Linked DNA regions of Homo sapiens: all the other regions are linked to region 1. The links come from fine-mapping of genetic effects on gene expression. A gene starts in region 1. Each other region holds a variant in brackets. All regions are shown on one strand. Distances are from middle to middle.

Evidence for each region. PIP is the estimated chance that this variant, and not a neighbour inherited with it, causes the effect.
Region 2: its variant is the best candidate, but not a certain one, in a credible set for the expression of CAPN5 in whole blood (TOPMed, PIP 0.87).
Region 3: its variant is the best candidate, but not a certain one, in a credible set for the expression of CAPN5 in cerebellum (GTEx, PIP 0.58).

The regions. Positions count from the first base shown.
Region 1 is chr11:77,063,667-77,069,517 of GRCh38, reverse strand. It overlaps CAPN5 (calpain 5), which reads right to left and starts at 2,547. Exons shown (of 13, transcript NM_004055.5): 1 at 2,424-2,547. It overlaps LOC105369400 (a long non-coding RNA gene), which reads left to right and starts at 5,795. Exons shown (of 3, transcript XR_950341.1): 1 at 5,795-5,851. RefSeq lists a silencer at 2,342-3,031 and an enhancer at 2,888-3,388.
Region 2 is chr11:77,108,807-77,114,657 of GRCh38, reverse strand. It overlaps CAPN5 (calpain 5), which reads right to left. Exons shown (of 13, transcript NM_004055.5): 4 at 1,861-2,069; 5 at 224-416. Among named protein-coding and RNA genes, the nearest start is that of OMP, 8.9 kb to the right of the region's middle. RefSeq lists enhancers at 1-343, 344-939, 940-1,534. The variant G/A (reference allele first, on the strand shown) is at 2,803.
Region 3 is chr11:77,088,335-77,094,185 of GRCh38, reverse strand. CAPN5 (calpain 5) reads right to left here. Exons shown (of 13, transcript NM_004055.5): 3 at 373-504. Among named protein-coding and RNA genes, the nearest start is that of OMP, 12 kb to the left of the region's middle. The variant C/G (reference allele first, on the strand shown) is at 2,795.

The DNA.
Region 1 (5,851 bases):
CTAGAAGCTTTTGGGGGAAGCCAGGGGACTTGGTCAGGCAGATACAGATCACTCCCGTAAGTCCCCTTCACCCACTAAAGCCAAGAGAGGCTTCCGTTTCAATAGGAGAGGACTGTTTCCTTCCACCCTTCTTCTCCCAAAGTCAGCCCCTCATCCCCAGGGAGGGAACTAAGTGATGCTGATTGCCAGCTGCTATTAGTAACAATGGCTACCAGACACCATGTACTTAGAAAGATGCGTTCAGTGACATGATCTAAGTTCATCTTCATCATCCCCCGAGTCCCTGTGAATAGGCAGCATTTATCCCCATTCCGCACATGAGAAAACTGAGACAGAAAAGGGAAGTTCTCCGCCTCAAGGTCATAGGCAAGTAGGAAGGTACAGAGATGGTCTCAGCCAAGAGAAAGAACAGACACATGATTTAGGCCCTGCAGGTAGGAGAGGGTGCCCACTGAGGGCGCAGGAGGCCTCCTGTTTGGGGACCAGGACTCCAGGGCTGATCTGACAGCCTGCCAGGAAAGCAGGCGCAGAAGCAGACAGAGACAGTGCTGGCCTGGGAGCAGTGTCCCAGATGTCACCCACAAAAACCCACAGGCATCTCACAACCACCCTGTCCAACAGTCAACTTACTCCCAACCTGCTCCACCCCCAATGGTGGTCCCCATCTCACAGAGGCAGCCCCACCTACCTTCCCCCAGCACTGGGACCCTGTGTAGCCCCTTAGCCCCTGGGCACCTCCTGCCCCCAGCACCCCTGCTCTGGGAAACTTTATCAGGGTCCCTCCTCCCCTGCCAAGCCTAGCCCTGGGTGGGGAGCAGAGGAGAGCAGAAGGGAGGGCCCTCTCCCTGCTTTGGCCTCCTCCTTATAGCCCTCAGTGGAAGCCCACCCACTACTGCAGCCAAAGGTGGCCCTTCTTGGACACACATCTGACCTATCTAATCCGCAATCCACCCCACCAGCATTCATTTTCACACTGCCAGGCCTTTACTCATGCTGTTCCTTGGGGCTGCAATGACCTGCCTTTTCTTTTCTGCTTGGTGGATTTCAAGACCCAGCCCCAACGAATCTGCAAGTGAACTCATCCCCAGCTCCCGGGCACCCATCAGTCCCTGTCTTGTGCTCCCAGCACTGGGTACAACTCTGGACAGGGCCTTATCTGTGGACCCACTGCCTGTCTTGTCAGAAGAGAGGCTCCTCAGGGCAAAGACCCCGCCTGAGCACCTCTGTGTGCTGGCAACTAGCCTGACCTGGCCTGCAGCAGCAGCTGGGCCCACCATACCCTGCCCAGGAGGCAAAGGCAGCCACACCACCCCACCCCCAGACCCTGGGGACAGGAGCAAGGACCAGCCCGAGGACCCTGGGAGGTGTCAATCCTTGCAAAACACAGTGGTTCCCCCAGCAGGCCTCAGACTCATTGAGTTGGCTGAGCCTCACCCGTAAGCCCCTCTCTTCCAAGAAGTCTGCCCAGATCTCTCTTTCCCCTGAGTCCTGGGATAGTCGCCCTCAGTACTTTTCTCTCTAAACCACAGGTGTAGGGAGAAGATTCTGGGATGAGAGCCAGGCGGACCCGGGTTCAAATTCTGGCTCAGCAATCCTGAGAGGGCAGCTGACTTCGCTTCTCTGTGCCCCACTCTTCTGATCTGTATGGAACTTGGGGGTGAATCCCACCACATGAAATGACTGGGAGAGAGAACGTCGCACCTGTTAATGATCTTTTGTCCTATTTCGCCTCTGGTCCCCTAGGCCAGTCTTCCGAGACCCCCAACGCAAAGGAACAGAGGTGGGAACTCTGAGGTCTGAGAAACAAAGATCCATTCCCTCCCAGACCACTCCCCCACACTCCCGCAACACACACACACACACACACACACACACACACACACACGTGCGCCCGCCCTGCAGTCAAGGAGAAAAGCCCCCTTTCAACCTGGGGAGTAGTGCCAAGAAGCGGATAGGCTGGGGCAGTAGGAGCCTCGGCCCTGCCCCTTCCCCAGGCCTGGGTGGTGGAGCACCCAGAAGGGGTTGGTGGATTGCAGGGATGAAAGGGGGGTTAAGCAGGGAAGAGAAGGGGGGAACTGTAAGGAAGATGAGAGGAAGTGACAGTCTAGCCCCGGGTGTTAGGCGCTTCCAGCGCGTCCGCACTAGGAAAACGACTCGGAGACACCCAGAGGGAGGTGAAAAAAAGACTCCTCGCCGGGGGTGGGGGTGGGGACGAGCCGAGGGGGCCCAGGCGGATGCTCCAGGACCCCGCCCCCCAGCCAGCGCTCACTTCCTTTCCCCCCGGGCCCGCGGGAGGTGCAGCCCCCTCCACTGATTCGTGGTCCCGGAGCAATCACTGGCCCGCGCTGCACCCGCACACACCCCCCCGAAACACACACACACACACACACAGAAGCACACGCCTCCCTCCGCCCGCCTCCTACCGGCCGAGCCGCCGCGGGTCCAGCCGGGCTCCCGGGATGCAGGGCACGGCGCGGGCGCTGGAGCGGAGGCTGCAGCCGCCCGGCGCAGCAGCCTCGGGCTCTGGCCGGAGATCCAGCTGGGACTGGCCTGCGGCGGGGGCTGGCGCTCGCATTCCCCGGGTTCGGCCAGCTGGGCCCGGCTCCGCCCCGCCCCGCCCGCGGCCTCCGCCCATTTGCCCGTTGCGAGCCGGAGGCGTGGTCTCCCGTGGGGCGGGGTGGGCGGCCCGGTGGCCGGGTGCGCCCATGCGCACTGGTGCGGTGGGCGGCCGCTCAGAGGAGCGGTCTCATTCCAGCCCCTGTGTTGAACGCGGACTTGGGGCCCCTAGCGGCACCCACCGCCTCTACCGGCTCGGTCGGGCCCTCGTTCTCTCTCCTTCCCAGCCTATCTGTCTGCGGTTGGTGCGCATCCCCATGGGCAGCCTCCCAAGGGCTGGCTGCACCGTGAGGGATCGGGCCGGGGCTGGGGTTCAGCCCCCACAGGGCGGGCCGGGGCCGCGGCTGACTTGGGGCCGGCGTGTAGTACCGAGGACCCGCAAGGGCCAGGGTGCCTGCCAGAACCAGGACTTGGTGGGCGGCGCCCCTCCCTTTCCGGGCTCCACCTTCACATCCATCCCAAGTGTTCGGATGGAGAAGTGGGAGCCCAGGCCCCTGTGAGCAGCAGAGGGCCTCTGTCAGATGGGAAAACTGACCCCGGCCCGTGTTGAGGACTTAATCCCGTGCTGCCATGGGCTCCCGGGCTCGGGCTCATGTTTGACTCTCTGTCCGTGACTGGCTACCGGAATGCCCTGGGATGGCACGGAGCCTGCATTTCCTGATCTGTAAAACGGGGACTATAATCTCTACCCACCCCAGGCCGCTTGGGGAATCCGATAGAGAAGGTTTAGGAGTGACTAGTTCTTGCCTACAGTAGGAGCTCAGGGGTGCCACCACCCCCCGCCCTGAGGCAGCAGGACAGACGCCCATCTGATCTGATGAGCCCATCGGCCCACTCGCTGGTGGAGCGTCTCAGGCCCGTTCATTCTCCGCCTCCAATTTGTTTCGAAGTCTCAGTTAATGATTTCGTCAACCTCTTGTGTTACCGAAACAAACTTGGGTCCGCCCACCCAGTGCAGCAAAGCCAAACACTGACACCAGGATTTGCAGCGGCAGAAAGGGAGGCATTTATTGCAGGGTGCCAAGCAAGGAGAATAGGTCGGCTAATGCTTAAGACCCGTACTCCCCAATGGTTTACATGTAAGGCTTTTTAAAGGTGGGGAGACAGAGGTTATAGGCAAAGTCATAAATAAATACTCTGGAGCTATACATTGGCTTGGCCCAAAAAGGTGAGACATTTTGAGGCAGGGTCATAGGTGGATTCAGAGATTCTGTGATTTGCAATTGGCTTAGGAAGCAAGACTGTCTAAAAACCTGGGGTCCACAGATAGGAGAGTTAAGCATTGGCTTATGGGTGTGACTCTTTACAGAACCCTTGGGAAGAAATTTAAAGAACAGCCCTCAGTTTCCCCTTATCTGAGGCCTAAGTGACAGCTGTGAAAAACAATTCAGGGACATAGGTCAAGATGTTATCTTTAGTTTCTATAGGGAACCAGACATCTTGTGGCTCTAACTTATTTGGGTGGCCCTTGTTTGAAGCTTCAATTACCTTCTTGCTTGTCAAGGTGCTCATTTACTTCTCAAAGCTAGCTAGCTGCCTGAAATTCCCCCTGAAAAGACTCATGATTTTCCTTTATTTCCACTAAGAGGAGTCTCTGCCTCACCTCACTCTCAGTCACCTGGACTTCTCTAGCTTCTCCCCAACCTCCCTGCCTCTGTCCCAGGCCACCCAGATGCTTCTCCCTTAAGAGTAGCCCCAGCCCCCTCAGGAGCCTCCTATCCAACCAAAGAAGACTTTCACATATGCAGCTGAGACCCGCCACCCATAGAAGAGTGTTCTAAGACTGCACCCCATCTGACTCCCCCATCTCCCCTAACCTTATTCCATGCCCTGTACTGGGAGCAGCAGCTTCACCAGCCCTTCAAAAGTCACTTCAGGGGCTCTACTCTCCCCACCTGAAACCATGCCCGTGCTGATCTGTGGCCGTCTGAAGGACTCTTCCTTCCTCCCTGTGCTGCAGCATCCCAAAGCTCCCTTGCTCAGCATCCACCCCTCACCTATGGCCCTTCTCAGGCTGCGTCTCTCAGAGTTGCTGGTGGGGCCAAGGTTTCCCCTGCAAGGCCAAAGTTCCTGGAGGGCAGAGGCCAAGGGTCATTGTCAGGAAGACAGCAGCACTTGGTAGAGCCAAGTAGATCTGGGCTCCAGTCCTCACTCTGCCAGTTACTGGCTGTGTGATCTGGGCAGGTCCTCTATCCTTTTCCCTGTCTGTAAAATGGGCTTCTAGCTGGAGTGTGTGATGACCAGGTACAGGCAAGTCACGGGGATCGATAAAGGCCCGGTTGTGTAGGATACTGGGCAGCATTGTCTCTGGGCTGGGCAACTCCCATGTGTTCCAAGGTGGGGCTGGGGTTGTGTCTGAGAAGGCATGTTTGCCTCAGCCCACAAAACAGTGGGGTTCAGAGGATGCTCAGACCCCCTTCTGTATCTCAAAGCATTGGAGCCACAAGAGGGTATTGTGCAGTAGTTGCAAGCATGGGCTCTGCCTGGGCTCATATTAGCTGAGTGACCTCAGACAAGTGACCCAACCTCACTGTGCCAGTATCCTCTCCTATAAAGCCAGCATAGCAACAGTCGCACCATGGAGTTGTTGTGGGATTAAATGGGCCGGGACATACGGAGCCCTCATGGTTGCCCTTTGCTTGGAGTAAGAGCTCAGCATGTGCTAGCTGGTGTTATTGTCATCTGGCCCAGCCCCTCATTTTGTGAAGACATTGAGTCCCAGAAGCAGAGACATGCACTCATGGCCAGTGAGAAGCCCAGCCACCCTAGCAGGTTAGCACTGGAAGGGCCCAGTCCTTTAATCATCTCCAGCAGCTCCACCTTCTCCGACAGGTGAGGAAAGAGGCCTAGCGAGAGTGACCTGCCCAGGACACCCACCCTGGTGGCCGGGTGGAGAGAGCATTGGCCCTGCTCTTGGGGGAGAGAGAGGTCCCCAAGATAGGCCAGGAAGAGCCAGATCTGCCCAACAAGGTTGGGGAAAAGGTGGGACTTTGATGATGCTCTGGCCCGGGATCCTGCTGGTCAGTTTTTGTAAACTGAGTCATCTAATGGTACCATCGCAGGGCCTGATGTGGAGGTGCACTTCCCATTTCTCACAACCGCCCTCTGCAGCAGCTCTGATTAGTCCATTTTCCAGATGACAGAACCAAGCCTCAGGGAGATGCCCCAGGTCACACAATTAGTAACTGGAATCCAAACCTACCCTGTCTGACTCCACTCTTGTGGCCTTTCCCTC
Region 2 (5,851 bases), 45 kb before region 1:
GAGGATCAGAAAAGAAGTTTTGGTTGAACAGTGCGGGAAAGGCTTTTCACAGCCTAGAGGGTCTGGGCAGGGGGTTGCACCTTCCAACTTCTCCCCTCCCCCACGAGGCTGAGGGTCTGAATACGTAGGAGCTGACCTGAGCGTGGGATGTCACAGTTGTCTCCCATCTCAGTCAGCGAGGGTGAAGGGGAGGGGTCGCCTCTGGGGACTGCCGTGTTCTCACCTTGATGGAGGCACTGATGAGGCCGCCCCGGCTGTGCACCTTTAACATGCGCTCAAAGAGCTGGTTCCTCTTAGTCTCATCGTTGGCAAAGTCACCCTCGGTCAGGTCGATGGGCTCAGAAACACCACCCGTGAAGTCCACCAGTGCGTCTGCTGTGTTGCCTCCATCCAGGGCCTGGTAACAGCCTGCCAGTCTGGGAAGCAATGTGGAAAGACTTCCCAGCTCATGCTCCCCAGCCAGGCTGCATCCTTTACCTCATAGGGGAGGTTTTTGAAACTCAGAGGGGTCAAACAACCTGTTACAGTCACGCAGCAGGCCACGGCGGAGCCAACACTGGAACCCAGTTCTTAACACTCGGGCCAACATATAAGGCTTAAATTCCCCTAAGCCTTAGTGGCTCAATCTTAAAAAATCAGCTGTCCAAAAAAAAAAAAGCAACTCTTTTCCAAAGTGCCAACAATGGTCAGGGGGAGGGGAAGGAGTTACTGTCGGATGGGTATAGACCTCCTGCTGGGAATGATGAGAAGGTTCTGGGGATAGATAGTGGTGATGGCCCATAGCACTGTGATCATAATGAATGCCACTGAATTGTATGTTTCCATATGGTTAAAATGAGAAGCATTATGTTTTGTCTATTTTACCACAATGAAACTGTGTTTTTTCAAAAAACAAAAAACAACCAAGGCCACTGGGTCGACCTGCATCCAGGTGGTGGAGACTCAGTGGCCACCAGGGGGCTGGCTTTCCTTTCTTAGGATTGAAAGTGGAACCTGCCAATGTGTTTTCTTGGGTTTTTGATGTTGGGAGTTTTTGTCTTTCCTTTTCCTCTCTCCCCCTTTCTCTTGTTTTCTATCTCTCTCTCTCCTTGCTCCTGCCCCTACACACACATTTTTTCAGCAAGATTGACAAATGGGCCTAGCAGGAGGAACCAGAGAGTGGCTCACCTAGAGCTGGCGAGGCTGGCCTCTGACCCCACTGCCCCTCCTCCCTCCTCCCTCCTGGCCTAGGCGTATCCCTGCCCTGCAACGGCCTGCGCGAGTCACTCTTCCCCAGGGTTCCCCACAGCTCAGCAAAACTTTGCTTGTGCCCATTCTATGCTGGGCTCTGTGTTGGGCACTGGGGACACAGAAGCAGAAGGCACGGAGCAGAAGGAGGGGTCAGCAAAGACAGAATGGACAGTCAGCCAGGCAGAGGCGGATGGTGGACAAGAGGGAGGCCCAGCAGGCGGGGAAGGCAGGCACGTGGCCCACCCTGCACAACCAGGCCCCAGCTCAGTTACCACTTCCCCAACCAAGGCCCCAGGCAGGGCATGGCAGCATGAACCTTCGAGAATGGTCCTAAATGTGAGTGCTGCCTCTGCCCCCAGCTACCTACAGGATGTTGCCTGGGCCTCAGTCTTCTCCCCCTAAAATGGGAGTAACCAACATTCCTCTCCTTACAGGGCCCAGGCCTCCACCCCACCCAGCACAGGCTCAGCTGACTATGCCCTCAGGCCTGGCGGTTGAGCCTGCTGCGTGCCTGCACCAGCCCCTCACTTCTCTGTGCCTAAAGCCCTGGCTAACGGAATACCACGAGGAGCCCATCCGGTGCCACCCCCGTCTGGGCCTCCCACCCACCTGCCTGCTGCTGGCACCTACTTGGCATAGGCCTTCTCCACTAGGGCGCACCAAAACTCATTGCGGGAGTTGGAGTGGCAGTAGATGAGCTGGTTGTTGACTGTGGGCAGCCGGTCATCGATGACCACGTCCACCCATTCCCCGAAGCGCCAGAAGTGGAAGTGGAAGATGCCCGCGTAGGCGTTGGGCTTTTCGGGGTCCCATTCCTGCTCCTTCCAGTCTGGGATGACCTGGGTAGGGGGAGGGGGGATAGGATGGGGGAACACAGTGAGGGGATGTCCGGCTTCCTGAGGAAATGGGGGCGTGTGCTTCCAGCGAATCGGAATGTAAAGGAATACTGGGTTCGGATTCCAACTCTGCCACAAGCCTTCGTGAGACCCGGATGAATCCTCCCCATCTCCAGGCTCAGGTTCCCATCTCCGCGAGGCTTGGAGGCTCCCTCGGCCTCCTTCCAGCTGTTGTTCTCAGAGTGTGTGAGCTTTCCTCTTTCTCATGCCTCCCTGCAACCTTCCCCGAGACTTCCGTCCACATCTACCACCAGCTCCTGCCTAGTGACCAGCGCCACCATCCACCCATCCAGCCCACCCCAAGGCTGGCAGCCCCACTGGCTGCTTTGCTTTCCCTCCCTCCATCCAGTCAGCCCAATCTGAGCGCCTCCATTCTCCTGAAATCCATCTCCTCCTCTCCATCCTACTGGCACCACCCTGGCCCAATCCCCCATCTCCTCGCCCAGGGACAACTGTAGCAGTGTCTGCAGCTACATCTACTCTCGCCCCACATAGACCAACCCAGTCCTGTCACTTCCCTAGAAAATAAGACACAAACTCTCAATGCACTCCCCCAGCCTCATTTCTCTGCCTCCCCCACAGCAGCCCCCACCCCTGCTCCCTGCTCCAGGTTCTTCCTTCTCCTCATTACTCAGTAGACTTCCATTTGTCCTTTAGTGTCCATCCTCTTTCTCCA[G/A]GAAGCCTCCCTGACTATTCAGATTAGGCCAGGACCCCTATCTCAGTCTCATGGCCCTTGGCAGCTCTCATCTGAGATACTTACCTTTACCAAGTTATAATTAAGTAACTCTGTGACTTTGAGCTCTGATGTTACACTGGGAATGTCAGTTCTCTGGGGGCAGGGCCATATAGGTCTCAGTCACTGCTATGCACCCAGCACCTAGCCCAGGGCCTGACCCAGAGAGTATGTTTAGTAAACATGCATTGACTGAATGAATGAATTCAAAGACATTGACTGGGGACACTGAGACATTGATTTTATTACTTATGACGCATCTGGGAAATGCCTGTGACTACCATGACTTATCTCCATTTAATTATCACAATAACCTCTGAGTAGATGACTATTATCCAGCCCTACTTCACAGATGACAATACTGTGGCCCAGAGAGGGCACGTAACTCGTCCAGGGTCACCCAGCTAGAAAATACACACATGCTTTGGAGGCAGACCAACCTTGGTTTGAAGCCAGGATTCAAACCCAGATCTGTCTGCCTCTGAAAAATGAGCTCCTTGGCACTGTGGACCACTCTGCAACCAGCCCCAAGCTGGACACTGACAACCAGGTGAATCACATGGTCCCTTCCCTCAAAAGGCTCCCAGTCTGGGGAGAGGAGGAGGCACCCAGGCAAAGTGCTGAGGCTACACAGGGTGCAGGCGGGGCTATACCAGAAGGGAGTGCCAGACCCTACTCAGCAGCATCCGCAGTGCTGCTACAGGCGTCCCCCAAGCAGATGAGGACAATAGCCACAATCTGGGCAGAGAAGGGAAAACCCCTCACCCTGTCAAGTCAGGGTGAATGACCCCTGGCCCTGCTGGGCACGGGACCAAGTGGAGCTGAGCCCCATCAGGACCATAAGCAGCTCTTTCTAGAAGAAAACCACTCCAGGTATGGGGGGCACCCAGGCGGAGGAACCAGAGGCACACCAGGAGGCCGGCACTCACCTGAGTGTACAGACTTCAGCCAAAAGCTGCTCCCCACTGCATGCTCATTAAGGACACTTTTGTTTGCATCAACAAACAAAACTCTTACCATCAAAAGGGATGTTGGCAAAGGGAAATGCTCCCTAATGGGACATGTGAGACCAAGAAAATGAAAATGCTAACTGCAGCGAGAGGTACTACTGCCCTAATGGAGCCCTGTTGGGTGCCAGGCACAGGGCCAGGCTGCTCACACTAGCACCCCTGAGCCTCAGGACAGGCTTTTGAGGCAATACTACCGGAAGGTGCTGGCAGAAGGCTGCCCACAGGCTCAAGCGAGGGAGGCAGGGTTCAAACCCAGGACTTCCCAACCTCACTGTCTGGAACCCAGCAAGGGCTCAACACTGGCTGTTCCTTTCCCCCACCTCCTCACCCCCACTTTTCTGTCAACTCTGTGCCCTTTCTAAGTAAAAATGCCCTGACTCCTGGCACTCTCTCCCCACTTTGCTTTCAGGACAGACAGCTGTATCAAAAACACGTCTCATGGGAGGCCAAGGCAGGTGGATCACTTGAGGCCAGTTCGATACCAGCCTGGCCAACATGGTAAAACTCTGTCTCTACTAAAAAAGAATACAAAAATTAGCTGGGCGTGGTGGTGCGTGCCTGTAATCCTAGCCATTCAGGAGGCTGACTCATGAGAATCGCTTGAACCTGGGAGGCGGAGGTTGCAGTGAGCTGGGCAACAGAGCAAGACTCTGTCTCAAAAAAAAAAAAAAGAGCGGTTCCATACAAGGTGAGGGTTACCATTCCCACTGCACAAATGGGAAGACTGAGGTCCAGAAAGAAACAAGATCTGCCCAAGCGCACAGAGTGACAGGGAGTCCTAAGCTGAGAACACAGGCCTGGCCCATCACCTTCACCCCCTCCTTCTGCTCCTGCCCTGTTCTGAATGCTCTGGACTCCATGGCTGGGAGGAAGGGCAGCCCTCACAGGCTGCTAGGACCTCGGGAGGATCATTAGTCAAACTCGAGGCTTGGCTCTGAGCCCTCTGTGGCTCAAGAAGCTGCTAATGAGGCTCCAGGGCCTGGAGACCCAGAGTCTGGGATCCCCAAGGGCCTCCATTTCCCCTCCTGCTTCACCGCCCCTGCACCTGGCACGGGGTGGGCCCCAAGCCAGCCTTCTCACCCCTCAGCTGCTCTGCTGTCAGCCAGGATGCTGAGCAGGAGGGAGACTGTCTAAATAGATGCGCTCGCACACCAAAAACCCTCCCACGCCACGCCGGAAACCAAGGAAGCCAGCACAGACTCCCGGGGCCATGTCAAAGGATTCAGGAACCAACCTGAAGAGGTTCCTGATGGCCAAAGATGGGCTAATTTGAGCATCAATAAGGGCAAAAACAGCAATGGATTAAAACACATCAAATATGTTCCAATTCATGAGATCAGAATGATACTTACAAAAACAATTAGTCACTATCGGAGGTGGGTAGGGAATCAACTCATTTTTTTTTTAAACTGGAAAATTACAGGAAATTTATCCTGTCTCTGTAGACAAACTGTACCAGATGGTAACCAAATAGTAGATGGAGGGAAGTCTTGAACTGGAAGAGACTTCCTGCTCATAAATGAGAAAGGACTGATGATATTAGACCACCAGCATTTTACAATCACTGAAGAATGAATGAATTTAGGCAGTGGTCACTGATGGTTTCTAACATCACAAAAAAGAAAGATAACTAGCCATGATGTGCCCCCGAATGAAGTACACAACATCTTCCATGATGCAGCTGTGACAAAGAAAGAAAAAAATTGTTCCTAAACCGTATGAGCTTCTGGAGCTAAGTCCCAGGTTACAGAAACGCAGGGGACAGAGAACATGTCAAACACCACCAAAAAGACACAGTCAACAAAACCCACACCATGGGAAACCCTACAGGACAAACGGCCCCATTTCTTTGATAGATAATTTACTAGGAAAAAATAAAAGATGAAAGAGCAATCAACCAATTGCAATTATGGACTTCTGTTTGGATCTCATTCAAACAAACCGTAAAACCTATGCATATTTATAGCACAAATTAGAAATTA
Region 3 (5,851 bases), 25 kb before region 1:
GCAGGTCTGTGTCTGTCAGGGGTCTCCTGAGCCCCATCAGTGGTGTCTGCACACTAAATGTGATGCACACAGCTTCCACATTTCACAGGTGTGTATTAATCTGCCAAGTGTCCCCAACAGTGTTGGGGGGGACACATCAGAATGACCTTGGGAGCCTGACGGATTCCCAGCACCTGCCCCTGGGGGTGCCCAGCTGAAGGGTGAGGGATGGCAATTCCGACGCTCGGCCAGTACTGGGGGCCCCCACCCCATCCCTGGCACAGGCTTTTGAAAGTCTCATCTGCCACAATCAGGTTCCGCCTGTCTGGCAGTGAGGGCCACAGGCTGCGTTCACACTCCCCAGCACCCTGCCCACTCTGCCCGAGGCCTCACCTTTTGCCACAGCGACTCCCGGGAGGCAAGTGACGAGCAGGCTGCCACAAACCAGCAGTTGCCCACCTGGCCCTGGTGCAGGTCGTGGGAGCTGATGCCATCCACAAAGAGGCGGGGGTCCTCGCAGATGCCCTGCGGAGAAGGCGAGGAGAGAGCGTGAGGGGCGGAGGAGCATGCGGATGCCCCCCATGGCAGGAGACATGACAGACACAGACGTGACAGACACAGACTTGCTGTGTGATCATCAGCATGGTGATTCACCTGCCTCCCACCACAGACTTGGGGCCCCATAGGGCCCATCTGCTCCCCGCTTGCCCCCCACCCCGCGGTCCTGCCTGGGATGCCCTCTCCCCTTCCTGGCCAGAGAGTGCTCTTCCGCTAAAGGTTTGCTGATGAAGAACCTGTGGGAAGACGTCAGAGCGCTGGACCCGGGGCACTGCCTTCCTCCTACCCGCTGCGCCCCTCCCTAACCAGCAAGAGCTCCATTCCCTTCCTTCTCTAGCACCAGCAGCCTGAGTGCCCACCCCCGCCAGCCCACAGGGGTACAGCAGGTTCAAGTGGGGTGGGGGTGCGGGCATGGGACAAACACCCATATCCCAGCTGGGGAGCACAAAGCGAGGGGCCAGTGGGGAGCGGTGGGCCAGGCCCCGCATGGCACTTGCCTCGCATAATCTCATCAGGTCTTCACGCCACCCAAGGAGCGAGGAGTTGTCATTCCATTGTATGGGCGAGGAATGGAGGTTCAGAGATGGACTGTGACTTGTCAAAGGCACACAGCAAGCAAATGCTCAAGTGGAGCAAAAACTCCTTTTTTTCCTTTTTTCTTTCTTTTTTTCTTTAGAGACAGTCTCGCTCTTTTGCCCAGGCTGGAGTGCATGGAATGCAGTAGTGCAACCTCAGCTCACTGCAACCTCCAGCTCCTGGGTTCAAGCAATTCTCCTGCCTCACCTTCCTGAGTAGCTGGGATTACAGGCACCCACCACCACGCCCAGCTAATTTTTATATTTTTAGTAGAGACAGGGTTTCTCCATGTTGGCCAGGCTGGTCTCAAACTCCTGATCTGCTGGCCTCGGCCTCCCAAAGTGCTGGAATTACAGGCATAAGCCACTGCGCCCAGCCTCCATTTTTATTTTCTACAGAGACTGGTGGGCACGGCCCAAGAGGCTGCTCCATGAGACGCAGCCAGGGAATCCGGCCAGGGCAGCCGCTGACCCGGGAATGATCCATGAGCAACTGGCTGCTCTCAGGCTCAGCCCTTCCTAATTTCTGGAAGCCCCTTGCTCTGCCTGCCAAGAGAGAGGCAGCCCAGGGGGGCTCCAGTACCAGGTGCCCTCTGCACCTGACCCTGCCCAAGGAGCTCTGGCCTGGGCTTTCCACCTCTTCTTGCTGTGGGGGTATTTTCCTTAAAAGCCCCCTGAGGCAGTGCTGTGAAAGGGAAAAGCATGGGCTTTGGCTTCAGACTGGAGACTGAATTCCAGCTCCTCAATCGGCAATCTGGCGAGCTCTCTGAGCCTCGGCTTTCTGATTTATATAATAGAAACAACAATTTCTTTATGTTGTTGGATTTTGGGGTTTTTTGTTTTTGTTTTTGTCTTTTTGAGGCATGGTCTCGTCTGTCACCCAAACTGGAGTGCAGTCACAATCACAGCTCACTGCAGCCTCAACCTCCTAGGCTCAAGCGATCCTCTGGCCTAAGCCTCACGAATAGCTGGGACCGTAGGCCCACACACCACACTCAGCTAACTCTTAAATTTTTTGTAGAGATGAGGTCTCACTATGTTGCCCAGGCTGGTCTCAAACTCCTGAGCTCAAGCAATCTTCCCGCCTCAGCCTCCCAAAGTGCTGGGATGACAGGCTTGAGCCAATGTGCATGGCCAATAATTTCTACTTTGCGAGGAGGAATCAGTGTATGTAAAGTATCAAGCCCAGGGCCTGACCCAAAGCGAATGAAAGTCTCCTTCAATTTTCAGGTGCTAGGAAGCTATGCCCAGACCTCTATGGGTGGCTCCAGCACCAAGAGATGCAACCAGGAAGGGTCAGCTCACCCTGTGTTCCCTCAGCTGTAATCATCCCTCCCCAAGGCCTGAGCTGGGGGTGGGGCCTGGCCTGATCCCTAGCCCTGGCCCAGGGAACAGAGCAGGCCCCTCTTCCTCTCCCATCGCCTCACTGAGCTGAGGAAGCCACTGCTCCCCAGTGGCTGTGGGTATGGTGGAGGGTGGGGACAGGCAAACACTGAGACATGCCTTTCATGTACCAGGCATCCTGCTGACACCACAATCCATCCTCACCAAGGCACTGAGAAGTGGGCAATATCCCCTTTTACAGATAAGGAAACTGAGGCCCAGGGAGGTGTAATACCATGTCCCCGCCACACAGCATGGGCAGATGGCAGCAGCCCTCTGCCTGCCTCCACTCCAGCAGG[C/G]GCTCCTGAGCTAGTTCCATCCCAAGAGCTTCTGCGGTCCTACCACAGGCGGCCAGCAGAGGGTGGCAGAGGCAGGAAGACCGAATTTGAATGTCTGCTCCCTGCTGTGCAACTTTGGGCCTCACCTGTGCAGAGGAGATAAATGGTCATCCCAGCAGGGCTGTGTAGGGACTCTACAGATCGTGGAGCAGAGCAGTTGCAAGGGAGAATGGGGAAGAGGGCTCCTAGTTCCCACCAAGATGGGGACCCTGCTGTCCCCTCTGCCCGGAAGAACCAGAGTTTTAGAGGGTCAGAGAAAGGGCTAGAATTCCCCCAAGGGCATGAGCAGCTCCTGAGACCTGGCCCCTCCTTCCAGTTGGCACTACAGGGTGCACCACGGCCAACCTGCACGGCGGCTTCTGCAGAGCACAGGTCTAGGAAACCCAGTGAGGCCGCCTGGTCTCATCCATCCCCAACGGCACCCCGTCAGGAAGCACAGGCAGGAAGAAGGGACTTTCCCTCTCCTCCCCGCTGCCCTCCTGTCTTCCCTCCCAGCCCTGGACCACACCCCACATCCAGCCCATCCTCTGACCCAGAGGGAGCTATGACTTAGCATCTGTTCCCTGAGGCCAGGAGGGCAGGCAAGACCGGGAAGGGAGAGGGGCTTCCATATACGGAGGACCCCAGCCACATCATGCCATGGAAAGAGAAACAGCTACCACCTGGCATCACCAGGGTTTACAGCAGGAAGTGACTCAGGTGTCCCTCCACTTCAGATCCTCCCAGCCAGTGTCCTAAGACAGACACACAACTGCCCCATCCCAGAGAGGAGGAGGCTGAGCCCAGGACAGCGCAGTGATGTCCAAGGTGACAAGGCAAGTAAGTGGACGGATCCGATGGGATGCCCTAGGTCTGCTGGGCTCCCAACCAGGGTCTCCCAACACTAAGCACCACAGCTGGGGCAGACCCGAGGTGCAGATCCAACCAGATCTGGGCCCCAGATCAGGGCTCTGGCCCCAGACACTTCTCCAGTCCTTGAGAGACAGACCGAGCTTGGGAGTCACGATTCCCAGATTCCATCACCCTGACTTGCTGTGGCAGAGCAGGAACCTGGGGGCAATCGTGCAGCCTGGGAAGGAGCAGACAGAGCGGAAGGCAGCCAGGCATGTTCCCACTGCCAGGAGAGGCTCAGGGTCACCAGCTCTAACCAACAGAAACCACCTGAGGTTGGTGGCACCTGGAGTCTGCTCTGGAATCCAGGGGCCACCTTGGGGCACCTGTAAAGGAACAATAATAGAAATATCTCACAATGACTGGGCACCTGCTATGTGGCAGGCACTGTGCAAAACAACCCTGTGAGATGGGCACTGTTGGCATCCCCTTTTTACGGATGAGGAAACCAAGGCACAGAAAGGTTAAGTCACTTGCCCAGGGCCACACAAGAAGAGGTGAAATGAGATTCAAATTCAGGCAGTCTGGCTGCAGTCTCCAGGTAGACTAGGTTTTTTGTTTGTTTGTTTGTTTTTGTTTGTTTTTTTTAGATGGGAGTCTTGCCCTGTCGCCCAGGCTGGAATGCAATGGTGCGATCTTGGCTCACTGCAACCTTCGCCTCCTGGGTTCAAACGATTCTCCTGCCTTAGCCTCTAGAGTAGCTGGGACTACAGGCACCTGCCACCAACACCCAGCTAATTTTTCTATTTTTAGTAGAGACAGGGTTTCACTATGTTGGCCAGGCTGGTCTCAGGTGGGCTAGGTTTTATGGGTGACAAAGCCATCCTTCCTTCACCTGTCTCCCTGCACCTGTCCTAACCCAGCTTAGGGGGTGTCTCACTAGATAGCAATGAGACCAAGGGTTTGGGGAAGCCCAGGCCCTCACCTCTGCCACCATGGGGCCAGGCTTCTCAAGCCTAGTGTTTGTCCTTCCACTTTTCCTGGGCCACTGGCTGGACATAGGTCATAGAGTGAGTCAGGGAAGGTCTCTGCCCACAGGCAGGGATCTTGAGAAGGAGCCAGGCCCTGACCCCCCATGTGAGCAGAGCTGTGACAGCAGGAGCCAGAGAGAAAACAGAGGAGGCTGCCTGGAGGCAGTGATGCTGGCAGAGCAGGCATGGAGAGTGCTGGTAAGCAGGGAGGTTCAGGAGGGAAATGGGGACCCGAAGTGTCCTGAGGCAGACACTGCCTCCGAAATGGTCCTCGGGTGCCAGGGGCCCTTTATCTGGTGCCAGCCACCTGTGCTCCCTTCCATCCCTGTCCACACTCTCTAGGTTTCCTTAGGGTCCCCACCACCAGCCTGTGAGCTCCTAAGCAGGGCCCAGGCCTGACTTTGCCCACTTCTAGGCTTAGCAAAGCTTGGCAGGTTCCACTGGGGCTACAGACAGGTCCCTGGGAGGGAGGGGGGACAAAGTGGTGCACAGGATTGGGCTGTACAGGGGCTACCCCTGAGGGCTGGGGGTTGACCATTTCTCCAGGCAACACAGCTCTAGGACAGCATTCTGCACCTGCAGTCACCGCTCCCCTGCTCAGCCCATCCCAGCCTGTTAGACCAACTCTACCTGACAGGCCACAGCCCAGCCCACCTCCCTTCTCCCTTCGTGGCACAACAAGAAATTCAGGTTTCTATTCCTGGTGTACAAGGCAAGGCAAGGCAGCAGACTGGATCCATGGCACCTGGGCTATATCTGCAGAGGCTCCCTCCACATCCGTCCTCCTCCCCCACTCTTTGTCCATCCAGCTTCACCCTAGTCACCACCCTCCTGGAATCTAGGATCACAGAATGAATGAACTAGACAGTGGGAAACAGGTCTGGGAAGGACACGGGACTTCCATCTGGGACTGGAAAGGGAGTTGTAGCCTACAGCCCATCCCCTCTGCAGAAGACTTGCCCTCCCCCAGCCCTACCTCCTTCTCCTCCATGGCAGTCCGCACCCTTCAAGGCCTCTGAAAGCTCTCCCTGACCCCACTGAACCCCATCTCTGAGCACATGCCCAGAAGGGGGTCATTCCTGGGCAGTTCGGCTGGGTGTGCCCCCGCTGCCAGGCCTTGCTGCAAACTGACTGTTCTGTGGCACGAAAAGGCCTT